Homo sapiens: one gene and its partners. The protein of the gene in region 2 purifies or fractionates together with the protein of the main gene of each other region. This does not show direct contact. Each region holds a gene or a part of one and is shown on either strand. Other genes may lie near its edges. The genes, in order: KCTD3, PCMT1, DERA, PDPR, RAB3IP, KLHL24 and SHKBP1.

Region 1 (3,500 bases), on a different chromosome or scaffold from region 2:
AACTCTTATGTGGATTCCAGATTCTTTTTTTTCCAGGTATGTCTTATAATTCTTTAGTGTATATTTTAATACATTTATTTACCAAAATATAATAATGTTTGTCAGTTAAATTTTTTTTAATAAAAAAGGTTAACTCTTAAAATTATATATTTTTGAACTTGGAAGATAGATAACTTACTTTTAGTGGTCTTTAACATTTGGTAAAGAATTAGCACATTTGTTTATACTCAGATTTTAAAAACTAACTTTAGATTATTAATGACTTCCAGTTTGCTGAGTGGGAGAATTTCAACACTTCGAGATGAAACTGGTGCTGTGAGTATAATAATAATTGATACATATTCCTAAATTAATGCTTATAGTGCTTGGTCCTAACATATAGTTACTCTAAGAATATAGGAGAACTGATATTTTAATAATCACTGAATGAAAGTGGCATAATTTTATTTCTTGTCATATGTAGTTTTTTATAATCAGAGAAGATCCCTAAGTAGGGAATACTATATATGGCAATTTAAGTATTCATGATTAGAGAGATTGTAGGATATGAGCTTACATTGGCATTAGAAGAAATTTTTTTAGATCAATAATTGAAACTTTAACAGTAAGTGGATAAATGTAAATATTCTAATATTTTTATATTAGAATATAAGAGGTTAAATTAGTAAACTCCTACAGTTTTTTATTTTATTTTGGAGAATAACCTTGCGAATTTGTTTATACAGCATTGGTACAGTGAGGGAAGGAAAGAATTGTAAAGTTTCAGTGCAAAAAAATTGGTTTATCCATTTGGAGGCAACAAAGTGACCAATGGTATTTATTTGCTGTGGTGAGATTTGCAGATGAAATAAGGCAACAAATGCAGATATGTCCATGTGAAATTATAAAAAGTTATCAATAATAAGATCTCCACAAATCTGTGATGTCTCTTCGATTTTTGATGTGCTCTAATGAAAACAAAAGAAAATTTATAAAGCTTAGAAGAATCTCATTGATTGTATATATATAGTTGATCATAGTAGGAAGAGTTTTATTACTGGCTGCCATTTCCCTTTCTAATTGATTTACATAAGCTTTAAAAGATGTTCCGTTTTTATGGCCAGATCTTTTGTAAATGATTCAAAATAGGTGTTGGTATAAATTTCCATAAAAAGTTATCAATTATGGGCTGGGTGGGGTGGCTTATGCCTGTAATTCCAGCACTTTAGGAGGTCGAGGCAAGTGGATTACCTGAGGTCAGAAGTTCAAGACCAGCATGGCCAACATGGTGAAACCCCCTCTCTACTAAAAACAGAAAAATTAACCCGGCATAGTGGCAGGTGCCTCTAATCCCAGCTACTCAGGAGGCTGAGGCAGGAGAATTGCTTGAACTTAGGAGGTGGAGGTTGCAGTGAGCCCAGATCGTGCCACTGCACTCCAGCCTAGATGAGAGAGCAGGATGCTGTCTCAAAACAAACAAACAAACAAAAGTTACCAATTATGTATTTTACATTTTTAAGCAATTTGTTTTCCTCTTATGTATTCTGTGGTGCTTTAGTTTAAAAAAAAAAAATTGTCATTACCTTTCCCCAGCTCTGAAGGAAATTGAGATTAGTAAAAGTATTATGAGAATAGTATTCTTTTCCACTTTTGACAGCAGTGTGCAGTATTTACTTTTCTCAAGTACCCCTGTGTGCATTATTAAAGTACATTGTAGTTTTAATGATTGAACAGTATAAGAAAGTATTATTTATTCATGTTTTCGAAGTATTAATTGAATTCTAGACTGTTTCAGATAAAAATGTTTCCTCAGGTGTCACTTTTACCAAAGGTATCAATACAAGTGATTTTATTAGACAAGATTTTTTCTATGTATTAAAATATCAGTTTAATAATAACTATTCAGAGGAAGAAAAAGACACCATCTCAAGAAAAAGACACCATCTCATGAAATGCACACAGACTACATTCCAATTTTAGAAACATTAAAGTTTAAGAGTGGAAACAAGGAAATGTAGTATTTAAGTAATTAAGACTTCATTCCCTATTAGTGTTACAGATATTAAAGTTAAAAGATTAATTTGTAATTTGAAAATAAAACTGTTCTCTTTTTTACAGATATTTATTGATAGAGATCCAGCAGCATTTGCACCCATTTTAAATTTTCTTCGGACAAAAGAACTAGACTTAAGGTAAGAAATGCACTCTTTTTAAAGTAAATTCTTACTGATAAATATGTGTTTTTAATATGTTTTATGAAATAAAAGGTTTTTTTTGTTTGTTTTTTTTTTTCCTTGAGTTGCAGTCTTGCTCTGTTGCCCAGGCTGGAGTGCAGGAGTGCAGTGGCATGATCTCTGCTCACTGCAACCTCCGCCTTTCAGGTTCAAACAATTCTCCTGCCTCAGCCTCCCGAGTAGCTGGGACTGTAGGCACATGCCACCATGCCCGGCTGATTTTTTGTATTTTAGTAGAGAAGGGGTTTCACTGTGTTGCCCAGGCTGATTGCAAACGCCTGAGCTCAGGCAGTCTCCCCGCCTTAGCCTCCCAAAGTGCAGGGATTACAGGAATGAGCCACTACGCCCAGCCAGAAAAGGTTTTTTTTTTTTTACTAAGACTTTGATTAAAAGTTTCCTCACACTGAAACTGGATGTGGTGGTACACGCCTATAATCCCAGCTACTCTAGAGAAGAAGCTGAGGCAGGAGGATCCCTTGAGGCCGGGAGTTTGAGGCTGCAGTGAGTTATGATCATGCCTCTGGCCAGTACTGCTGTACTGTTAACACAAATAGTTTCGAAATAGAATAAGAAAGTTTGAAGCTTTTTTTTTTTGAGACTGAGTCTTACTCTGTCACCCAGACTCACTGCAATCTCCACCTCCCGGGTTCACGCCATTCTCCTGCCTTAGCCTCCCAAGTAGCTGGGACTACAGGCACCCGCCACCACACCCGGCTAATTTTTTTGTATTTTTAGTAGAGATGGGGTTTCACCGTTTTAGTCATGATGGTCTCCATCTCCTCACCTCGTAATCCACCCGCCTTGGCCTCCCAAAGTGCTGGGATTACAGGTGTGAGCCACCGCCCCCAGACACAAAGTTTTAAGCATTTTTAATGTTAAACTAGTCATAACCAGTTTCACAAATAAAAACAATTTAACATAGTAATTGTATATATTTATCAAGGCTGGGGAATATTTTTAAAATAAGGACAAATTACAACTGAAACCTAAGATGAATTATTAGTATTATAAGTTCTGAATCTTCCATTTTTTAAAAATTTTATTTCATGTTACTTAACTTTACTACTATGAAGTAGCATCATTTCATCTGGATAACATAGCCCTTCCCAAGGCTAGTCTTTTTTTTTTTTCTATTTTATTTGTTCAACAAATATTTATTACATAACTATTTTATACAAGCACTATGCTAGGCACTGTGAGGTATACAAACATAGATCAGAAATAGATCATGCTCGCAGGGAATTTATAGTGTAATTGGGGAGATTAAGATAGATATGTATAGAAATA
Region 2 (3,500 bases):
AGAATGAGCCTGGTTTCTAAACATTCCTGCAGATTTACCAGGATGAAGGTAAAACTTCTGCATTAGAAAAAGTGCTCTTAGAAAAATAATGCCTTGTTATACTTCTGCCTTTTCTCATCAGAGTCTTATCTGGTCAATGGCTATCCAGAGTATTAACTGGGGACCCACTAATATATGTTGGAGTAAAGGTTGATCATTGCTTAGATCATCACATCAGTTTGATTTGAGAAATATCGTGCCTGGAGGACAGATTGGAATATTCTGATCTAGTTAAATTGGGAGTTGTGGATCCACCTTGGACTAGAATCCATGTAACTTGCTATAAATGTATAATCAGCAGACTTACTAGAATGTAAGCTCCAGGGAGTTGGAAATTTTGTCTGCTCTTTTTTATCATGATGGTATCCTAAACATCTAAAACAATGCCTGGCACATAATAAGGACTCATATTTTCTCAGATGTTTTGCTCATTTTGTAGAGGTTAAGTCCTCATTAATGGATATCAGTGATTTTTTTTAAGGTTAGAAATGCCATTTAATAAATGACTCATTCTCTATACTTGACATGTTTATAGTTTTAGAGGATGTATTCATTTTAAAAAATCATTTGGTTTCTGAGTTGTTTTTCATAAAATGGCATTAATGTTTTTCACACATTTACCATGTGTGAAAGTACTTTGTGTTTTAAGCACTAGAGCCTGTGTTCTAAGTGCTACCCCATTTTTATGATGGGGTTTATGCCTTTTTCCTCCCCATTTTGTACTGAGGAACCTGATTCATACAAGGAATGATAGGCCGGGTGTGGTGGCTCACGCCTGTAATCCCAGCACTTTGGGAGGCCGAGGCAGGTGGATCACCTGAGGTCTGGAGTTCGAGACCAGCCTGGCCAACATGGTGAAACCCCGTCTCCACTAAAAATACAAAAATTAGCTGGGTGTGGTGGCACACGCCTGTAATCCCAGCTATTTGGGAGGCTGAGGCAGGAGAATTGCTTGAGCCCGGGAGACAGAGGTTGCAGTGAGCTGAGATCACGCCACTGTACTCCAGCCTGGCCAACAAAGCGAGACTTTATCTCAAAAAAAAAAGAAGGAACGGTTAACTTGCCAAGGTATGTATGTATGTAAGTGATGACACTTAGACAAGAACCCAGATAGTTTGACTTCAAAGCCTTTATGTGTTAATTTTTTAAATTTTTATATTTTTTCTTGAAACATTTATACTTAATATTTTAATTTACAAATAAATATGCAAAGAAGGGATTTTTGTTGTTGTTGCTTTTTGTTTGTTTTCTGAGACAGGGTCTCAGTCTGTCATCCAGGCTGGAGTGCAGTGGCACGATCTCAACTCACTGCAGCCTCTGCCTCCCAGGCTCAAGTGATCCTCACACCACATCAGCCTCCTAAGTAGCTGGGACTTAGGAGGCACATGCTACCACACCTGGCTAGTTTTTGTATTCTTTTGTAGAGATGGGGTTTTGCCATGTTGCTCAGGCTGGTCTCAAACTCCTGGGCTCAAGCAGTCTACCTGCCTCTGCCTCCCAAAGTGCTGGGATTATAGGTGTGAGCCACTGTATATATTTTCATGTTTTCTACTAAAAGCAGTAGAAACAAGTGTAGAAATTCCTTCCCATCAGGCGGGAGGCAGGGTGTGTGGTGGCTCAGTCCTGTAATCCCAGCACTCTGGGAGGCCAAGGCGGGCAGATCACGAGGTCAGGAATTTGAGACCAGCCTGACCAACGTGGTGAAACCCTGTCTCTACTAAAAATACAAAAAAATTAGCTGGGCATGGTGGCGGGGGCCTGTAGTCCCAGCTACTCAGGAGGCTGAGGCAGGAGAATTGCTTGAACCTGGGAGGCAGAGGTTGCAGTGAGCTGAGATCGTGCCACTGTACTCCAGCCTGGGTGACAGAGCGAGACTCTCTCTCAAAAAAAAAAAAAAAGAAATTCCTCCCTGTCAAATTCTTTATGTAACATTTTAATATTTAAAGTTATACTTTAGATGGAATTTAAATAAAAAATTATTGTACTACTATTAAATATTGGTAATTTTCTTCAAAGTTCTAGATTTAATCTAAGAAAGATATAATTTTTCTTAGTATTACAAGTTTTATTCAATGAGAGTGATAGTTGAGAAAGTTGTATATATGGTAAATAATTTATGATAAACTGAGTGTTTAGCAATCTATAGAAGCCTTAAGCTATTTTTGTTTTCTCTTTGTAGAATATGACTTTCGATAAGGAAAAACTTCAATAATACTTTAGAAAAACAAATTTAGCCCAATGAGCTACTGAATTGTTTTCTCTTTTCCAGGTTGGATGTACTGGAAAAGTCATAGGAATTGATCACATTAAAGAGCTAGTAGATGACTCAGTAAATAATGTCAGGAAGGACGATCCAACACTTCTGTCTTCAGGGAGAGTACAGCTTGTTGGTAAGTATCAGAAAACTTTAAAAATTTCTTCAGAGGATTTTTATTTTCAGAAGATCCAATGCAAGCTAAATAATACTCAGAGGTAATTATTGTATTTTTTTTTACAATCACTTTTAAGTACTAAAAAATAAAAACGATTATTTTTGCTCACCTAGTGTGTATTTTGCAGCCATCTCTTTGTGAGTTTAATTTTGTATTTTCCTATTAACCTCTGAGATTGAATTTTTTGTAATGTGTCTGACCATTAGGATTTTGTCTTTTGTGAAGTACCTGTTCAGATATTGGATTGCTTGTATTTTTGACTTACAGGGCTTCTAGCCCTTTGTCTATATATATAAATACATTTCTTCTCCCATCTGAGGTGTGCCTTTTCATCTTATTGGTACCCTTTTGATAATAGAAATTCTTAATTTTAATGTAGTCAGACTTACCAATTTTTTTCAGTGCTTTCTGTGTCCTTTTTAAGGATACTCTGAGACCATGAAGATATGTCTCTTATTATTTCTTAGAACCTTTATCATTTTTAGCTTTTCATGTTTAGGTTTTTGATCTTCCTGATGTTGGTTTTTGTGTATGTGTGAGGTAAAGGTGCAGTTATATGTTTTTGTGTATGAATATCCAGTTGTATTCCCCAGACACACTCAGTTTTGTTTAAAAGATAAAATATTGGCCAGGAGCGGTGGCTCACACCTGTAATCCCAGCACTTTGGGAGGCTGAGGTGGGCAGATCATGAGGTCAAGAGTTTGAGACCAGCCTGACCAACATGGTGAAACTCCGTCTCTACTAAAAATACAAAAATAAGCTGGGCGTGGTGGCGCACGCCTGTAGTCCTAGCTACTCGGGAGGCTGAGGCAGGAGAATCGCTTGAACCCGAGAGGTGGAGGTTGCAGTAAGCTGAGATCGCACCACTGAACTACAGTCTGGCGACAGAGCTAGAGTCCGTCTCAAAAAAACAAATAAAATAAAATAAAGGCCCGGGCAGCTCTAGTAGCCACAGCCATCCCCTAGAGGGATCTGGCTGAGGAGGAAGTGGAGGTGTTGCTTGCCTTGGCCTTTGCCCTGATCCTGTG
Region 3 (4,246 bases), on a different chromosome or scaffold from region 2:
ATTCATTGTGGTCACAATGGCCTTGGCTGATGCTGTGCTGTGAAATTGTATACGTTTAACCAGGGAAAACCATGGTCCAGTTGTGAGTTTCAGGCCAGCTCCAGGCTTTCAGGGCCTGCTTTTCTCTTTTTCAAGGTTAATATAAAAAAGAAAAGTGCTATAGTATGTATGAGTAAGATCTACACACATCCGAAACATTCAACAGTGGCTGTGTGTGGACAAGGCTGAAAGCTCAATGTAGAGGAGTATACAAATATTACTATTCCTATTTAAAACAGCTCAGTAATTACTGTGTGAACTTGACAATAACATTAACAGCTTCCATTTTTTAAGTATCTACTGTATGCCATGTTATGTACTAGGTGCCTTGCATACATTCAACAGCTTTGCAAGGTGAACATATTTTGATCATCTCCACTTTACAGGTAAGTAGACAGACTATTATTTCCAGAACTGCCAAGTTACATTTATTAAATGGAAGAGCTGGTATATTAATGGGTTCAGCTCATTTTGAGCTCACTGTATTTCCCCTATACCAGGATGCCTTTCTATTCAGAACTTTGATGTCTAAAGTTACAGCAATGGAGATAAAATACATTATTGGCAGGATTGTTCAGAGACTCAAATGCTATCATACATCTATATATGATGTATGAAAGCACCTAGCACAATAACTGGCTCATGGTAGACAAATCATAACTAACTGTACTGTTTTCATAGCAGAGGTGCCTCTAAACGTGAGTACAGATAAGTTAACTATATTGAGATTGTGGAGTGACTCGACGATTTTAACCTCTTGGTCACAGAGAAATCAGGCTGAAGCATTTTACCTTTATAGAATCATAGTATTTTGAAGAACCAAGAAATTGTCAAGGTCTTCTTTTACAGATGAGAAAAATGAAGCTCGGAAAAGCAGTTAATTTGCCCAGGGTCACACATTTAATTATTGCCCGAGCTTGGCTAAGAAACCAGGTCTTCTGACTCCTAAGCCCTTGCCTTCTTCAGGCCACATAGCTGCTTCTTTTCATGATGTGTAGATTAGAAAAGTCAGTGTGCCCCGGGGCCCTTGATTGCACCTTGGTTTCCCTAACAAGGATATGGGATCCCTGCTGACATTTCAGACCTTAAGTTGCAGAGCTCTGCACTTGGATCTTCTTCCTTCTTGTTATATAATCTTACAGTTAAAAGTTTCTAGGAATATTTTTATTACGTGCAATTGGCAACTTCAGTATTTTTTAAAGGGTGTTGGTAGCATTATTTCCGGGAGCTACTTAGCGCTCCGGTTCGGTACCTCGTGGAGAAGACGGGGGAGGGGAGCAGCGAGATTTCCTTGCGGAGCAATATTCCTAGGGTACAGACCTCGTAGCCCGGGCCCGCGACTCCGCCCCGGGAGCGGGCAGGGGCGGGGCGAGCGCTCCAGCTGGCGGGAAGGAGGAAGGGCCGGGCGCGGCGCAGAGGCGGGCGCCTACCAGCCGGCAGCTCCGGAGCTGCCCGCGCCATGTCCGCGCACAATCGGGGCACCGAGCTCGGTAAGGGGCCCGCGGGGCTCCCCATCCCCTCTCCCTCGCGTTCAGCGCCGCCGGGACTAGCGCGGGGCCTGCTGCCGCCCAGTGCCCTGGCTGTGGGTCCCCGAGGGGTTTTCGCTGGGGCGGGAAGCAGTGGCGTCTGGTCAGCCCTCACCCCAAGTAAAGGCCGAACCCGGCACGTTCGCGCCGCTTGTCTTTGCACCTAAGCTTTTACTCTTGTATGCGGAAGGAGTAGGAAAGGGTTAGATTATTATCTTCCTGCCTTTTCGTTCACTCTAGCTCGCTGGTTGGAAAACCCAACAACCCAAAAAACAAAACCCAAAACAAACAACCCCCAAGCAGGTAAAAACAGATAAAAACCTTCTTTCTCCTCCTTTTAATAGAATACTTGTGTAATTTAATGCAGTATTTCCGTAGATAATTTTAACCGTAACCTTGAAGTGGCCGTGCTCGTGGAAAAGTTGTCAGCCGTCTGTGCTCAAAATGTAACACTGCAGATTCATGGGATTTTAGAGTTACAAAGATTTGTTAAAGTACCTGTATTATTTCCCAGTTTTCATCTTTTTTTATATTGTTCAAATACTGGCAAGAAACCTTAGTTCAGATTTCTTTTTTTTTTTTTTTTATTGATCATTCTTGGGTGTTTCTCGCAGAGGGGGATTTGGCAGGGTCATAGGACAGTAGTGGAGGGAAGGTCAGCTGATAAACAAGTGAACAAAGGTCTCTGGTTTTCCTAGGCAGAGGACCCTGCGGCCTTCCGCAGTGTTTGTGTCCCTGGGTACTTAAGATTAGGGAGTGGTGATGACTCTTAACGAGCATGCTGCCTTCAAGCATCTGTTTAACAAAGCACATCTTGCACCGCCCTTAATCCATTTAACCCTGAGTGGACACAGCACATGTTTCAGAGAGCACAGGGTTGGGGATAAGGTCACAGATCAACAGGATCCCAAGGCAGAAGAGAATTTTTCTTCAGATTTCTTAACATGTGAAAAATTTATAATTCAAACAGCAAAACCATGATCAAGAGAAGGTTTAAGCGTCTCGTTTAAGTATTATAGCTTGGATATCTGTGTATCCAGGATCTTTAACTTCTTACCTGTGTGACTTCGGACAAATTAATAACTTTGCGCTTAAGTTTCTTCATCTGTAAAATGGTTATTTTAGTGGTAGTTACCTTATAAGGCCGTTAGGAGATTAAATAGGATACATGTAAAGTAGTTTGGTATATTGTGGACACCTAGTAAGTCTTCAGTATAGATAGTATTAGTATATGGAGTTATGGTTTTAGGGGCTAATTTTGAGAAAATTGGCTGTAAATTATATGTAACACATACAGGTAGGTCCTTTTCGCCCTCCTTAAAAGTGACTGGTACTTAAACAGTCTGCACTTCCAAGAGGTGTTCTGGATTTTTTGTCGAATGGTAAGAGAGTAAATCTATCATTTTAAAGACAGTTGATTTACTAACCTGGTTGATTTTGTTTTAGTCACTGTCCTCTAGCTGATTATGTTTTAAACTCTAGTCCTATCTCTGGAACGTGGTCTTTAGTAATAACGGCATTATTTCTTAGATTGGAATATCCTTGAAGGTGGTGGATATGGGGCAGGTTTGGGGTGGTGTCTTACCTGGGTATTCCCAGGAATATGACCATGTGACTATGCATACATCAAGGATGTGCCCTAAATTTCCCAAAACTTAGACATTTTAAATTTTTCTTTCAAAAAACATAATTGAACCATTTTTAAATTTATTTATTTGCAGTAATTAGAATCAATCACTTCCATTCATTTGTTGAAAAGTAATAGACATAAATAATTGCCAGGTAGAACAATAGTAAATGTGGTTTTTATGCAGCTATCGAAATGATCATAGCTTTGTATTTATTATCTTATTTGTTAAAATCAGATTTTTTTCCTTCACGGGTATTAATCCTTAATCCAAACAGGTTTAAACTGAAATGCTAAAATAAGTTATTTGAATTAGGTACTAGGGAAAAAAATCTTTCAGTATTAATTTATGCAGTATATTAACTGATGATTTTTAAAATAGTTTTCTAATTGAAAGTCTTTTTAATAAACATCGTAACTAATTTCTAAAATAAATTAACATTTTTGCTTCCCTTTTCTTATTACAAAAGGAATTCATGGTTATTGTAAAAATTCTAGAAAATACAGTTAGCACAAAAATGTTGTAATATTATTACTAGTCCAATCACTGTTATTTATGATTTGGTGTATGTACTTCTAGTTCATGGACTTAAAAAAACATTGAGTTCCTTTGAGACTAAACCTGACCCTCATGATTAAAAAGTCTTTAAGGAAAACATTGGCATTTGGATGTATGAAAGATGTTTTCCAAATAGGGAATGTACCCTCTAGCTTTCATATTAGAGGATGGGGCCCAGCATTCTGAGTTTTAACAAATCCTGTGGGTAGTACTGAAGCATACCCAAGTTTGAGAACCAATGGCTTAATGATCTCCAAGGTACTATCAAGTTTTGTACCTAGACTATTATGCCCTATATAGTCTATTAAAATGTACAGATATTCTTCTATTTTATTAGATGCCACTTAACTATTGCCTAAAATGCAGGTGTCACGTGGGTAGTGATCTTTCTTTTGTTCACTGATGTGTCCCAAGTACCTAGAATAGTGTTTGGTACACAGAAGGCCCTCAAAAATGTCTTGAGGCTGGGCATGGTGGCTCATGCCTATAGTCCTG
Region 4 (3,500 bases), on a different chromosome or scaffold from region 2:
AAACTCTGTCTCAAAAAAAAAAAAAAAAAGACTTTTTTATATAATCCCAACAAGACCATGCACATCTATATTCAATGCATACACACATATATACACATATGTACAACAAATAAGACTAGAATAAACTATTAACGGTGATTATGGCCAGGCACGGTGGCTCACGCCTGTAATCCCAGCACTTTGGGAGGCTAAGGCGGGGGGATCTCCTGAGGTCAGGAGTTCGAGACCAGCCTGACCAACCTGGAGAAACCCCATCTCTACTAAAAAAAGAAAAAATACAAAAATGCCTTCTCATGCTCAAGTGATTCTCCCACTTCAGCCTCCCAAGTAGCTGGGCCCACAGATGCGCCACCACACCCACCTAATTTTTTGTATTTTGGTAAAGACAAAAAATACAAAATTAGCTGGATGGCTTACAGCTACTCGGGAGACTGAGGCAGGAGAATCGCTTGAAGCCAGGAGGCAGAGATTGCAGTGAGCTGAGATCGCGCCACTGCACTCCAGCCTGGACAACAAGAACGAAACTCCGTCTCAAGAAAGAAAAAAAAAATAGTTACTACCATTAAATAGACAAAATATGGGTGATTTTAATTTCCTTCTTTATATTTTCCAAAATGGGTTATTACCTTTTTTTTTTTTGGAGATGGAGCCTTGCTCTGTCACCCAGGTGGGAGTACAATGGTATGATCTCGGCTCACTGCAACCTCTGCCTCCCAGGTTCAGGCAATTCTCCTGCCTCAGCCTACCGAGTAGCTGGGATTACAGGTGCCTGCCACCATGCCCAGCTAATTTTTATATTTTTAGCAGATACGGGGTTTCACCATGTTGGCCGGGCTGGTCTCGAACTTGTGAACTCAGGTGATCCGCCCAAAACAAAAAAACCAAAAAAATTAGGCCGGGTGTGCTGTCTCACGCCTGTAATCCCAGCACTCTGGGAGGCCGAGGAGGGCGGATCACCTGAGCTCAGGAGTTCGAGACCACCCTGGCCAATGTGGTGAAACTCTGTCTTTACCAAAATACAAAAAAATTAGCTGGGCATGGTTGTGCATCTGTGGTCCCAGCCACTTGGGAGGCTGAAGTGGGAGGATCACTTGAGCATGAGAGGGCATTGCAGTGAGCCAACATCGCGCCACTGCACTCCAACCTGGGTGACAGAATGAGACCCCACCTCAAAATCAAAAACAAAAGAAAAAAACCACAAAAATTAGGCAGCTGACTATAGGACGACTAGTTTGTACAAATATTCGTGGCATGTTAATGCATCACCATAATTAACTCAGAATAGCTTCCCAGAAAGCACTCAGTCTTTTAGACAGCAGAACACTAGAAATAAGTGGGTTTTTTTGTTTGTTTTTCAATTGTAATTCAGAGACAAGGTCTTGCTGTATTGCCCAGGCTGAGCTCAAGTGATCCTCCTGCCTTGGCCTCCCAAAGTGCTAGGATTACAGTTGTGAGCCACCGCACCTGACCAAGTGTCATCTATTTACTATGTTTTCTTTTTTCTGAGACGGAGTCTTGCCCTGTCACACAGGCTGGAGTGCAGTGGTGCGATTTTGGCTCACTGCAACCTCTGCCTGTTAGGTTCAAGTGATTCTCCTGCCTCAGCCTCCCGAGTAGCTGGAACTACAGGTGCTGGCCACCACGCCCAGCTACTTTTTGTAAATTTTTTTTTTTTTGAGACGGAGTCTCGCTCTGTCGCCCAGGCTGGAGTGCAGTGGCGTGATCTCGGCTCACTGCAACCTCTGCCTCCTGGGTTCACGCCATTCTCCTGACTATAGGCGCCCGCAACCACACCCGGCTAATTTTTTGTATTTTTAGTAGAGACGGGGTTTCACTGTGTTAGCTAGGATGATCTCGATCTCCTGAACTTGTGATCCGCCCGCCTTGGCCTCCCAAAGTGTTGGGATTACAGGTGTGAGCCACCGTGCCCGGCCTACTTTTTGTATTTTTAGTAGAGACGGGTTTTGCCATGTTGGCCAGGCTGGTCTCGAACTCCTGACCTCAGGTGATCCACCCGCCTCAGCCTCCCAAAGTGCTGGGATTCAGGCGTGAGCCACCATTATTATGTTTTCATTTGAAGATATTTTATCCTATAAAGTTTTCATTCTCAGGGCACTCTTGTCCTCATTTACCTGATGCTAACATCAAGGCCTCAATCTTTTCCCCCTTTTCCTGTCACATCAGTTCTTCTTCCTAGTCTAGTGCAGATTCACTACTCGGGATGCTGAGTGAAAGTGGAGTCTGGGTAAACACAGTACCTTCTCTAATTTCACCCGAGACTCTCGTCCACATTCCAGGGGCGTGGTGAGGTTATTTATATCCTGACCCCAGAAGGCAAAAAACTTCTCAATTCGGAGACTGCGAAGAGCGTAATACCCAGCATTCCGGATTCCGTATTTCTGGCCAACACTCATCACTTCATTGTATACATGCAGGGCGTACTATAGGAAGAGACAGAAAGTTCATAAGCAGCAGACCTTCAGAATTAAGCATGGAGCATGTCTGGAAGCGCTGATGGCTCACACTATTAACATGGACAAGAGAGGAGGCGTATAAAACTCCCAGGATGTCTCATCCTTGACACGCTCAGGGCACAGCCCAGGAGTGATGAGCTGGGGTCACCCCAGCCTGGACTTAAGCTCCATGACAACAGGATCCATGTCTTTTCACCTCTCTAAAATGTCTTGTGTGGTGATTCTAGCTTACAGCAATTCTTAAATAATAATTTATAGAAGCTCTCTCACCATTTGGTAAATGGCCAATCTCATCATCATTTCTAAAACAGCCCACCAACCCTCCATGGTCTTCATCTGATTCTGGCTTTGTTCTTTTGCTCCAATTTCCCAACCACTGTTACTCCCTCACGTACTGGCCCAAGCTGTGAGGCCCAGCTCTCACACGTTACTCGAGACGTGTGCACACATCGGATGACGGCGGGGGAGCCAGGAAGGCAGGGCTCGCCTGCTCATGTCCCACAGCATTCAGGCTCTCAAGCTGCTCTTTTCTTGGTTTCAGAAACATGTACGTTATCAGATCAGTGAACAGAAGGTTTTCCAAACTGAAAGCAAATATTCAATCCCTGTCTGAACATACGCTGTTAAGTTTAAAGTCCAACAAAAATGAGACTACACTGTTTGCTTTTAAAACTGTAAAATGAAATCCAAAGCAAGACGTAGCAAAGAACCAGCTTCAGTGGTACTGCAGTTCTTTATCCTAGCACAGTATGTTTCTATGAACTGCACCACTGTAGCTGAACAGGCATCTACCAAACAGACCACTATGATCAAGACAACTTTATTTACTTATTTATTTTTGAGACAGAGTTTTGCTCTTTTGCCCAGGCTAGAGTGAAGTGGCGCGATCTCGGCTCACTGCCATCTCCACTCCCGGGTTCAAGTGAATCTCCTGCCTCAGCCTCCCGAGTAGCTGGTACTATAGGTGGCTGCCGCCACACCCAGCTAATTTTTGTATTTTTAGTAGAGACGAGGTTTCGCCATGTT
Region 5 (2,420 bases), on a different chromosome or scaffold from region 2:
CAAGAGAATGATTCTCTACCGAAACTCTGCAAAATGGGGATATCAAGAGAGTTGGAAAATGTAAGACGTAAAGACCATAATCAGGAAAATACGCATCATATTTGTTATTCACTGAGAGGGAGGAATTTCCACTTAAATCCTATTTCCAGCAGCTGGATTGTGCTCTCAGTGGAGTGCTCTGGATTCTGATTAATAGAGATTTTCTAGTCCTCCCAGCAACTTCCTTCTCAATTCTCTTCACTTTCCGCAGATCTCGGCACCAGGGTTGCATCTTGTGGGCTCCATTGTGTTTTCACACAATGTGCTATTTGTCCTTCACAGTGTTTTGGTTTATTTTTCTGTTTGTCCATCTTGTTTTTGAACAATTGCCAGCATTTAAAAATGAGGAAATCTAAAATCTGCATTTCAAGCTGCTCTTTTTTAAAATGTGCCGTTTCGACAACACTGAGCCCACAGTCTTGAATGACAACACTTGGGTGGAGCTGAGTGACTCCACCTGTCGGGTGGCTACACCCTTGCTCAGGGTATGCACTCCATGGTTTGCTCTATGGCCCACCATCCTGGATTGTCTCCCTGACACCAAGGCTAAGGGACCCACTTTACTCACTTATCTGCTGGGCCTTGGAAGTATTTCAGTTCGGAACCCCAATTCTAACCTTAGCTTCTCAGGCCATTAAATGAAATCTCATTTCTATGATGCTTCCTGTCACATCACTGTGCTGCTGAGAACATGAAGTCTGTGGGTGAATTGGTGGACGGGATCCAGAATCATTACTTGGCAGTGGATTATAGTGTGATGACTCATTTCCGGTGGTCTCCAGGAGACTTGGCTGGGAGCTTCTCTTGGAGTCTAGGGTTAGCCAGAGGCTACATGTTTTAGGCATCTTAATTCATATTTTATCTAAAGGCATATAAATCCTTAAAAAAAATCATTTGACTTCATCCTTGCTCCCTACATCCAGCCAGTAACCATTGCTTTGTTTTACATCGCGTGCTTCAGGCTTTACTACAGCCTACCTGGATTTTGCAGTAGCTTCTTAAACTGCTTAAACTTTGGATATTGCCCCAGCCAACACATTCTGCCACAGAGATCTCTCTGAGTTAAATGGGATTGTATCATGCCCCACACCCAAGCAGATAGAAACTGTCAATAGATACACTTAGAATGAATATGCATGGAATCAAATTACATTCAGAATCTACCACTATAGGTAGTGAATACAACAGGATAGCAGAGGCTGGGAAGGGTAATGGGGGTTGGGGGGTGGGAGGATAAAGGGGTTGGGTAATGGGTGTAAAAATCTATAGAAGGAATATGATCTGTTGTTTGGTAGCACAATAGGGTAAATACAGTTAATAATTTATTGTATATTTCACAATAAAGGAGTGGATTTGGAATGTTCTCAACACAAATGATAAATGTTTGAGGTGATGGATACCCCAATTACCCTGATTTGATCATTATACGTTGTATGTTTGTATCAAAATATCATATGTACCCCATAAATATGTACAACTATTATGTATCCATAAAAATTGGAAATAAACTACCACCATCTTTCTTCAGCCTATTTTCCTATCTCCTCTCGCACCATACTAGGCACACAATCTCTGTACCTGTGCTGTCTTCCAAGCCATTGCTCATGTTTTAAGAAATATACTTATTGTTTAATATATCCTGTACCACTGTAGGATGACTGTAGTTAACAATAATGTGTAGTTTCAAATAGCTAATAGCTGGAAGGAAGTTGTTGAATGTTTCCAACATAAAGAAATGATAAGTGTTTGAGATGATGGATATGCTAATTACCCTGATCTGATCACTACACATTATATGTATGGAAATATCATTGTGTACCCCATGAATATGGGCAATTATTATTTGTTAATTAAAAAAATAAAAAAAAGACCCACCCACTGTTTAAGTGTATCTACATCCTAGCTCTTTGTGGCACCTTTCCAGATCCTCCCAGATTAAATTACTGTCCTTTCTCTGTTCTCTTGAGACATTTTCCCAGCTATCAGTCTGCCCTGAGTTACAGTCACTTGTGTTTTTCTCATGCCCTAGATTTCAGTTTATGGAGGGCAGGGACTATTATTTATTCATTTTTTTATTTCCTGCACCCAGCAGATAGCTTCACACAATTGTTGAAAATTCATTTCTTTAAACAACTTGATGACTTGTCCTTATAGATCTGACAGCCAGTGTGACCGTCAAAAGAAGCTCCTAAACCTTTTCTTTTCTAAGCTAAACTTAGTTTGCTCATTTTCAAGTAACAGTATATGTGTGTAAAATATGTTTGGAATTATGTCACCTACAATTCTAATAATGAAACAATAGACAAATTTGGAAAATGGGTATTCTACAAGGCAATGAGCCTGGACTATAGAAAAAAGTCAAAATCATGAAGAGCACAAAT
Region 6 (3,500 bases), on a different chromosome or scaffold from region 2:
GGGGAAAAGGCCTTTTGGGAGGTGGCAGTGTGGGTAGGGAGTAGGGCTCCGGTTAGAATACATGGATGAAAGAAAGGTGAGCACAGCCATTTCCTTTACAACAGAAATAACAGATTTCCCAGCCTCTAACCAAAGAAACAACAAGTTTGGGAACATTCCTCTCTTCTGAAATATGAAAGAGAGGGGATAAATACTGGAGTAGGATTGTGAAAAAAGTCAAGAGAAAAAAAAAAGAACAGCCCAAGTGTAACAGATACTTCTCCATGGGATGGTAAAAAGGAAGTTATTTCAATAAAATGACCCCTTGGAAGGAGTTCAAAACAGGTTGCCATATGCTTTATGTGGAGTTTTGAAAAATATATAAAATAATTCAAGCAAACATGAAATATTTTATTTTACTTATTTATTTACTTTTTTGAGACGGAGTCTCACTCTGTTGCCCAGGCTGGAGTGCAAGTGGCATGATCTCGGCTCACTGCAACCTCTGCCTCCCAGATTCAAGTGATTCTCCCGCCTCAACCTCCTGAGCAGCTGGGATTACAGGCGTGTGCCACCAAACCCAGCTAATTTTTTATTTTATTTTGTTTTATTTTATTTTATTTTATTTTTATTTATTTATTTATTTTTGAGACGGAGTTTCGCTCTTGCTGTCCAGGCTGGAGTGCAATGGCTCGATCTCGGCTCACCGCGACCTCCACCTCCCGGGTTCAAGCAATTCTCCTGCCGCAGCCTCCCTAGTAGCTGGGATTACAGGCAATGCGCCACCACGCCCAGCTAATTTTGTATTTTTAGCAGAGACGGGGTTTCTCCATGTTGGTCAGGCTGGTCTCGAACTCCCGACCTCAGGTGATTGGCCTGCCTCAGCCTCCCAAAGTGCTGGGATTACAGGCATGAACCACCACGCCTGGCCATAATTTTTTAGTAGAGACGGGGTTTCACCATATTAGCCAGGCTGGTCTTGAACTCCTGACCTCAAGTGATCTATCCACCTCGGCCTCCCAAAGTGCTGGGATTACAGGCGTGAGCCACCACGCCCAGCCTGAAATATTTTAAAATTGAAATTCCAGTGTATTAATAATGATTATGTACTTGGTCCCTCTTAGATTTATTTTTCTTTTGTACTGCTTTATGTTATTACCTGACGGCTGAATGTATTCTGTACGTGCATCCAGTAATCTTCAACTGGATCGTAACAGTATATTGCCTTGGTCAGTCCACCGGCAACATAGATCAGGTTGTTTAGGGATACAGCTGTTATACACCTTTTGGCAATTGGGATAGCTGCACGAAGTAGCCAAGAATTGGTTTCTGGATCATAAGATTGAACCTAATAACATATAAAAATATATAATTAAAATTTCTAAACAAAAATGGAAATGTACTTAATAAAGAATCTACCAATACCTACAAACATTATTTAAAATAAAATCCTATTAATTCAGAGAATTAAGAGAGGTTAGCCTGATAGTGAAATGTCTGAATTACGAACATTCTCAAATAAAATGCAAATTTATTACTATCAAGCAGAATAGAGTACCAAACACACAGATTGTTTCTAGAATGAATGGCCACCAGGTTTGTCCACTAAAATTAACAGTCTAAATCTTTTCACAATTGTGTTATGTAGGATAACTATGCCTCACATCTGAATATAACTTCTTAATGCTTTTAGGGAGTCCTTTCTTCAAAAGAAAACAAGTAAACCTCAATTCAATCAGTATGCTCTGAATTATCACAAATTCTGAAATAACAAATTCTAAATAAGTAACATTTGATCACATTATTTTAAACTGAATTTAGAAAAAGAATTAATAGACTGACAAAATTCAGTTAACAGTGCTAAACCAGCTAGGCATTAGATGCTTTTTTCCAGAATAAACATTTCCTGAGATGTCAGGATAGCACATATTCTTTCGTCCCAGAAGTTTACTGAACCGGAACAACTTTGAGCCATCCTCTATTTACACTAAGGAGGTTTCCTTTCCTTTTTTCTGAAAAATACTTCAAAAGTATGTAGAAAATGACCCAGTTGGAAGCAGCATATTTAGTTACTATGTCTTACCCTTTGCTAATTCACTTCTCAACTGTGTTTTGTATAAATAGTTTTTAGATTTTGTAGATGACAGCAAAGGCTCAGAACAATTTATTTAGTAGAAAACTTCTACACAGATAGTCTCATTTCAAAAAGATTGGATCACATTTGTTAGAGCAAATTGTTAGATATACTAGAGTCTCACTTTAGCAACCCAGAATTCAATGTTTTTCTCCAAAAGCATATAGTACCAGAAAATTTTTAAAAGACCCCTCACACTATGTGACCTGGCTACCTACTTGATAAGCCTTCTGTATTTCCCTTCTTGTACTTAATATTGGTAATTTCTTTAAAAGTGCATGGCTTACCTTATCAGAACAAGTATTATCATCAGGTCCTCCACCAATCACAAACAGTTTGCCTACACAGCTAGTCACTGCAGGAGAACTCACGGCTTCCTTAAGGGGAGCAACTTCAGTCCATCGATTTGAAAAGGAATCATAACATTCTACGCTGCTAAGTCTGTTTTGCCCATCATAGCCACCGACAACATATACCTATATGTAAAATACATGGAAAAATCTTAATTATCAAAAGTCTGAATTTTGAAGTAGTTGGCTAAAGAATTAAGGGATCTCTTCTCTTTAAAATGCCCTTGCTAAATAAATATAATTGCAATATATTTAGCTCAGAGTTTCTGAACCTTTTAAAAAATCATCATCCCCTACCACCATCACAATCCACGGAGCCTTTTTAGGTATTTTCTTCCTAATAGTCTTCCCTCAATAAAATTGTAATACCACAGAGAAATTGTGTATCTATTTACCTTAATGTATGTATATCTGTTCTTTACACAAGAAAGGGTACATTTTTTTTCATCTTCTAAGAAACAATCTTTGCCCCCTTGGGGGTAATACTGCTCACACTGAGAATGGTACAATTTAGCTTAAATATTCACACTTATGGGTAATGAAATATTTGATTATTATAAAGTATTAGAGCTGTGAAACTAAAATATTAGGAAAGAATTACTAGACTATGAGAGTGCTGGTCAGGCCTTTCTTTTAGTCCGTACAATACCTAGAAAAGTACTTGACACAAAATGAACTTTAAAGTTCACAGAGCTTTTATGTACATTTTCTTTTCACAAATAAGAGAAAGGTAGGGCAAATTAGTATCTTTATATGACAGGTGAACCAATCAGTAAGATATTTATTAAATGGCTTATATGCAAAAAATCCATGGTTTATATAGGGAACTTTCAACCTAACAAAGCTCTCCAGCAGCTTAACATCCACGTTTCTCTCTCTCTCTTTTTCTTTTTTTGGAGATGGGTCTCATTCTGTTGCTCAGGCTGGAGTGCAGTGGCATGATCACAGCTCACTACAGCCTCAACCTCCGAGGTTCAAGTAATCCTCTCACCTCAGCCTCCCAAGTAGCTGAAACCACAGGTGTGTATCACCACACC
Region 7 (2,513 bases), on a different chromosome or scaffold from region 2:
GATATTCTGAATTAGTGTTTGAAGCCCCGGATCCAGCCATGCCTGAAGGCAGAGTAAAAGCCAACACATTCCTCCCCTGCAACACCTTTTTTGTTTTGTTTTGTTTTTGAGACAGGATCTCACTCTGTCACTCAGGCTGGAGTGCAGTGGTGTGATCATGGCTCACTGTAGCCTTGGCCTCCTAGGCTCAAGCGATCCTCCCACCTCAGCCTCCCAAGAAGCTGGGACCACAGGCATGCACCACCATGCCTGCTTAATTTTTGTATTTTTTTGTAGAGATGGGGTTTTGTTATGTTGCCCAGGCTAGTCTGAAACTTCTGAGCACAAGCAAACTGGCCTCCCAAAGTGCCAGGATTATAGATGTGAGCCACCATGCCTGGCCTCCCTTTGCTTAAACAAGAGAGGTAGATGTTCCTGATTTTGCATATATCGGGTTGGGTCCCACATCTTCCCCACCCCTTTCCTGGGGAGTCCCAAACCTGCTAAGAATAAGCAAGATGTTGGCAGTGAGGACTTTATTGGGGAGGGTGACTTTGGCTTCCAGAAAAGAGGGAAGGTGGGGACCTAGTAACAATAACCATTTATTCCAAGGAGGCCCTGGCCCTGAACCCGGGGTTCCCACAGGAATCAGGGAGGCACCTGAGTCCCCCAGGACCAGGGCATCCCAAGGCATCATGGCAGCTGCGTTGTTCAAAAGGAAGTTTCATTGAGCTTCATCTTGGGAGGTGTGAGGGGAGTGCCGAGACCGCTGGAGGGCCACGGGGCTGGTGTGGGTGGCCGTCGGAGGTCTGGCCCACTCCGCACCAGTTCCTGGCAGCGTTCCACAAAGCTGCCCCCACCACGGCGCCGGGCCTCAGCCTGCGGGGGGCTTGGGCTCCCACGGTGGCCAGACAAGGAGGTGTTGCTGGAGGCTGAGTGGAGGCTGAGGAAGTAAGGACAGTAAGTGCACGTCATCACGGGGCAGCTGGGCCACTCTGTCCCCGGGAACACCATGCTGTCCCCTCTCCCCTCATTGCACAGAAGGGGCAGTGGAGTTGTGGCTACCTGGTGAGGGAGATGCGGGGTGAGGGGCTGGGGAGACAGCCCCATGAGGGAGCTGAAGGAGCCGGCGGGGCCAGCTCACAGTGTTCCAGCTGTTCCATCAGCTCTTGCTCCGTCAGGCCACCTGCTGGGGGGCACGGAAGCAGGGTCAGGGGGCAAGACAGGGGTCATAGGGCAAGGGCCTGGGTTGCATTGCAGTGCAAGCACCGAGGGTCAGGACAGGAGAGAGGAAGCAGAGATCAATGCATGGGGGCCAGAGGCTGAGACAGGGGTTGAAAAACAAGGGCAGGAAGGGATGGGGAGCAGAGAGGGGGTCAAAGGAAAAGGGGTCAGAGGGCAAGGGCCTGGGAGAGAGATCAAGCAGTTGGCAGTGGAGAGTGGTTCTGGGTGAGGCTGTGGGGCTTGGGACGGGATTGGGGTGGGGCAGGGAGTACCAGGGGCCTGGCCGAGGCCGTCCATGGCGGTGGTTAGGTCCCACATGGCCAAGCTGCCGTTGGCCTGGCCAGTGAGCAGGTAGCGCCGGGGCCGAGAGCCGAGCCGCCGGGAGCCCTCGCACTCCAGCACTGTGAAGGCTGTCGTGGGTGAGCCGTCCACGGAGCGCACGGAGCACACCCTGGGGGGTGCAGTGGGGGAGGTGGTCACCCTCGCTTTCTCACCCTTCCTCGTCCCAGTCCCCACCACTGTGGCTGCAGTTCCTGCCTCTCCAGGGGCCATCCCAATCTTTATCCATCCCTAGCCTGCTTTTGAGTTCCAGTCCCAAGGGTCCAGCAGCTCTTGGACACCGCAGCCCCAAACACCCAGGGAGTCTCCCAGAGCTTCTGCTCTTCCCTGCTCCCACTGCAGGGAAGACCTGAGGCCCGTCCCAGCTGCTCCCCCACCTCCTATCAGCCTCCTGGCCTCCTCCCTGGGCTCCTGGCCTCCCATCAAGCCTCCTTTCATCCCCCATGCAGTGGCCACGGCTCCCCGCACAGGACAAAGCCTCAGCCCTTCCACAGCCTGACAAGGCCCGCCCGCATCTGCACCCCATCCTCACCTCCTGTTCTGTGCTCCAGCCCAGGAGCCCACGTGTCCTTCCCATGTGACCCTATTTGGCCCTTCTCAGCCTCTGCACATACAGTTCCCTCAGGCTGGGGCCCCCTTCCCCTGCCTTCTTTCTTCTGCTCCTTCCTACTTGTCCTCTAGGTCTCTGCTCAGAGTCCCTTCATCCAGAACATCCTCCGAGGCCCCTTTCCCAGCTGAAGCAAGGCTCCTACAGCTCCCTGGGTCTCCTCCATCCCATCCCGACCCCTGCCCCTGGTCCCCCTATCCCACCCCAACCCCTCCCCCTGGTCCCCCCATCCCACCCCGACCTCTCCCCCTGGGCCCCCATCCCACCCCTCCCCCTCCGCCTGGGCCCCCCATCCCACCCTGACCCCACCCCCTGTGCCTTCAACCTGGCCCTGCCTGCACTGGGCTGGCACTGCGCCAGGTCA

The links.
Region 1: the proteins of PCMT1 (region 2) and KCTD3 purify together in Homo sapiens (affinity purification with mass spectrometry; 3 studies listed by BioGRID and IntAct, with this or other methods). This does not show direct contact.
Region 3: the proteins of PCMT1 (region 2) and DERA purify together in Homo sapiens (affinity purification with mass spectrometry; 3 studies listed by BioGRID and IntAct, with this or other methods). This does not show direct contact.
Region 4: the proteins of PCMT1 (region 2) and PDPR purify together in Homo sapiens (affinity purification with mass spectrometry; 3 studies listed by BioGRID and IntAct, with this or other methods). This does not show direct contact.
Region 5: the proteins of PCMT1 (region 2) and RAB3IP purify together in Homo sapiens (affinity purification with mass spectrometry; 3 studies listed by BioGRID and IntAct, with this or other methods). This does not show direct contact.
Region 6: the proteins of PCMT1 (region 2) and KLHL24 purify together in Homo sapiens (affinity purification with mass spectrometry; 3 studies listed by BioGRID and IntAct, with this or other methods). This does not show direct contact.
Region 7: the proteins of PCMT1 (region 2) and SHKBP1 purify together in Homo sapiens (affinity purification with mass spectrometry; 3 studies listed by BioGRID and IntAct, with this or other methods). This does not show direct contact.

What each region holds. Positions count from the first base shown.
Region 1 is NC_000001.11:215,573,804-215,577,303, forward strand, and holds part of KCTD3 (BTB/POZ domain-containing protein KCTD3), read left to right. Parts: coding exon 1-36; intron 37-263; exon of another isoform or gene 264-269; coding exon 270-315; intron 316-2,097; coding exon 2,098-2,171; intron 2,172-3,500. UniProt on the Homo sapiens protein: Accessory subunit of potassium/sodium hyperpolarization-activated cyclic nucleotide-gated channel 3 (HCN3) up-regulating its cell-surface expression and current density without affecting its voltage dependence and kinetics.
Region 2 is NC_000006.12:149,791,241-149,794,740, forward strand, and holds part of PCMT1 (protein-L-isoaspartate(D-aspartate) O-methyltransferase), read left to right. Parts: intron 1-2,308; coding exon 2,309-2,429; intron 2,430-3,500. UniProt on the Homo sapiens protein: Initiates the repair of damaged proteins by catalyzing methyl esterification of L-isoaspartyl and D-aspartyl residues produced by spontaneous isomerization and racemization of L-aspartyl and L-asparaginyl residues in aging peptides and proteins.
Region 3 is NC_000012.12:15,909,886-15,914,131, forward strand, and holds the start of DERA (deoxyribose-phosphate aldolase), read left to right. Parts: upstream 1-1,446; 5' UTR 1,447-1,498; coding exon 1,499-1,529; exon of another isoform or gene 1,530-4,246. UniProt on the Homo sapiens protein: Catalyzes a reversible aldol reaction between acetaldehyde and D-glyceraldehyde 3-phosphate to generate 2-deoxy-D-ribose 5-phosphate. Participates in stress granule (SG) assembly.
Region 4 is NC_000016.10:70,152,332-70,155,831, reverse strand, and holds part of PDPR (pyruvate dehydrogenase phosphatase regulatory subunit, mitochondrial isoform 1 precursor), read right to left. Parts: intron 2,442-3,500; coding exon 2,259-2,441; intron 1-2,258. UniProt on the Homo sapiens protein: Decreases the sensitivity of PDP1 to magnesium ions, and this inhibition is reversed by the polyamine spermine.
Region 5 is NC_000012.12:69,821,280-69,823,699, forward strand, and holds the end of RAB3IP (rab-3A-interacting protein isoform alpha 1), read left to right. Parts: 3' UTR 1-1,920; downstream 1,921-2,420. UniProt on the Homo sapiens protein: Guanine nucleotide exchange factor (GEF) which may activate RAB8A and RAB8B. Promotes the exchange of GDP to GTP, converting inactive GDP-bound Rab proteins into their active GTP-bound form.
Region 6 is NC_000003.12:183,670,123-183,673,622, reverse strand, and holds part of KLHL24 (kelch-like protein 24), read right to left. Parts: intron 2,590-3,500; coding exon 2,401-2,589; intron 1,328-2,400; coding exon 1,139-1,327; intron 1-1,138. UniProt on the Homo sapiens protein: Necessary to maintain the balance between intermediate filament stability and degradation, a process that is essential for skin integrity.
Region 7 is NC_000019.10:40,589,385-40,591,897, reverse strand, and holds the end of SHKBP1 (SH3KBP1-binding protein 1), read right to left. Parts: intron 1,655-2,513; coding exon 1,476-1,654; intron 1,169-1,475; coding exon 1,045-1,168; intron 923-1,044; coding exon 691-922; 3' UTR 501-690; downstream 1-500.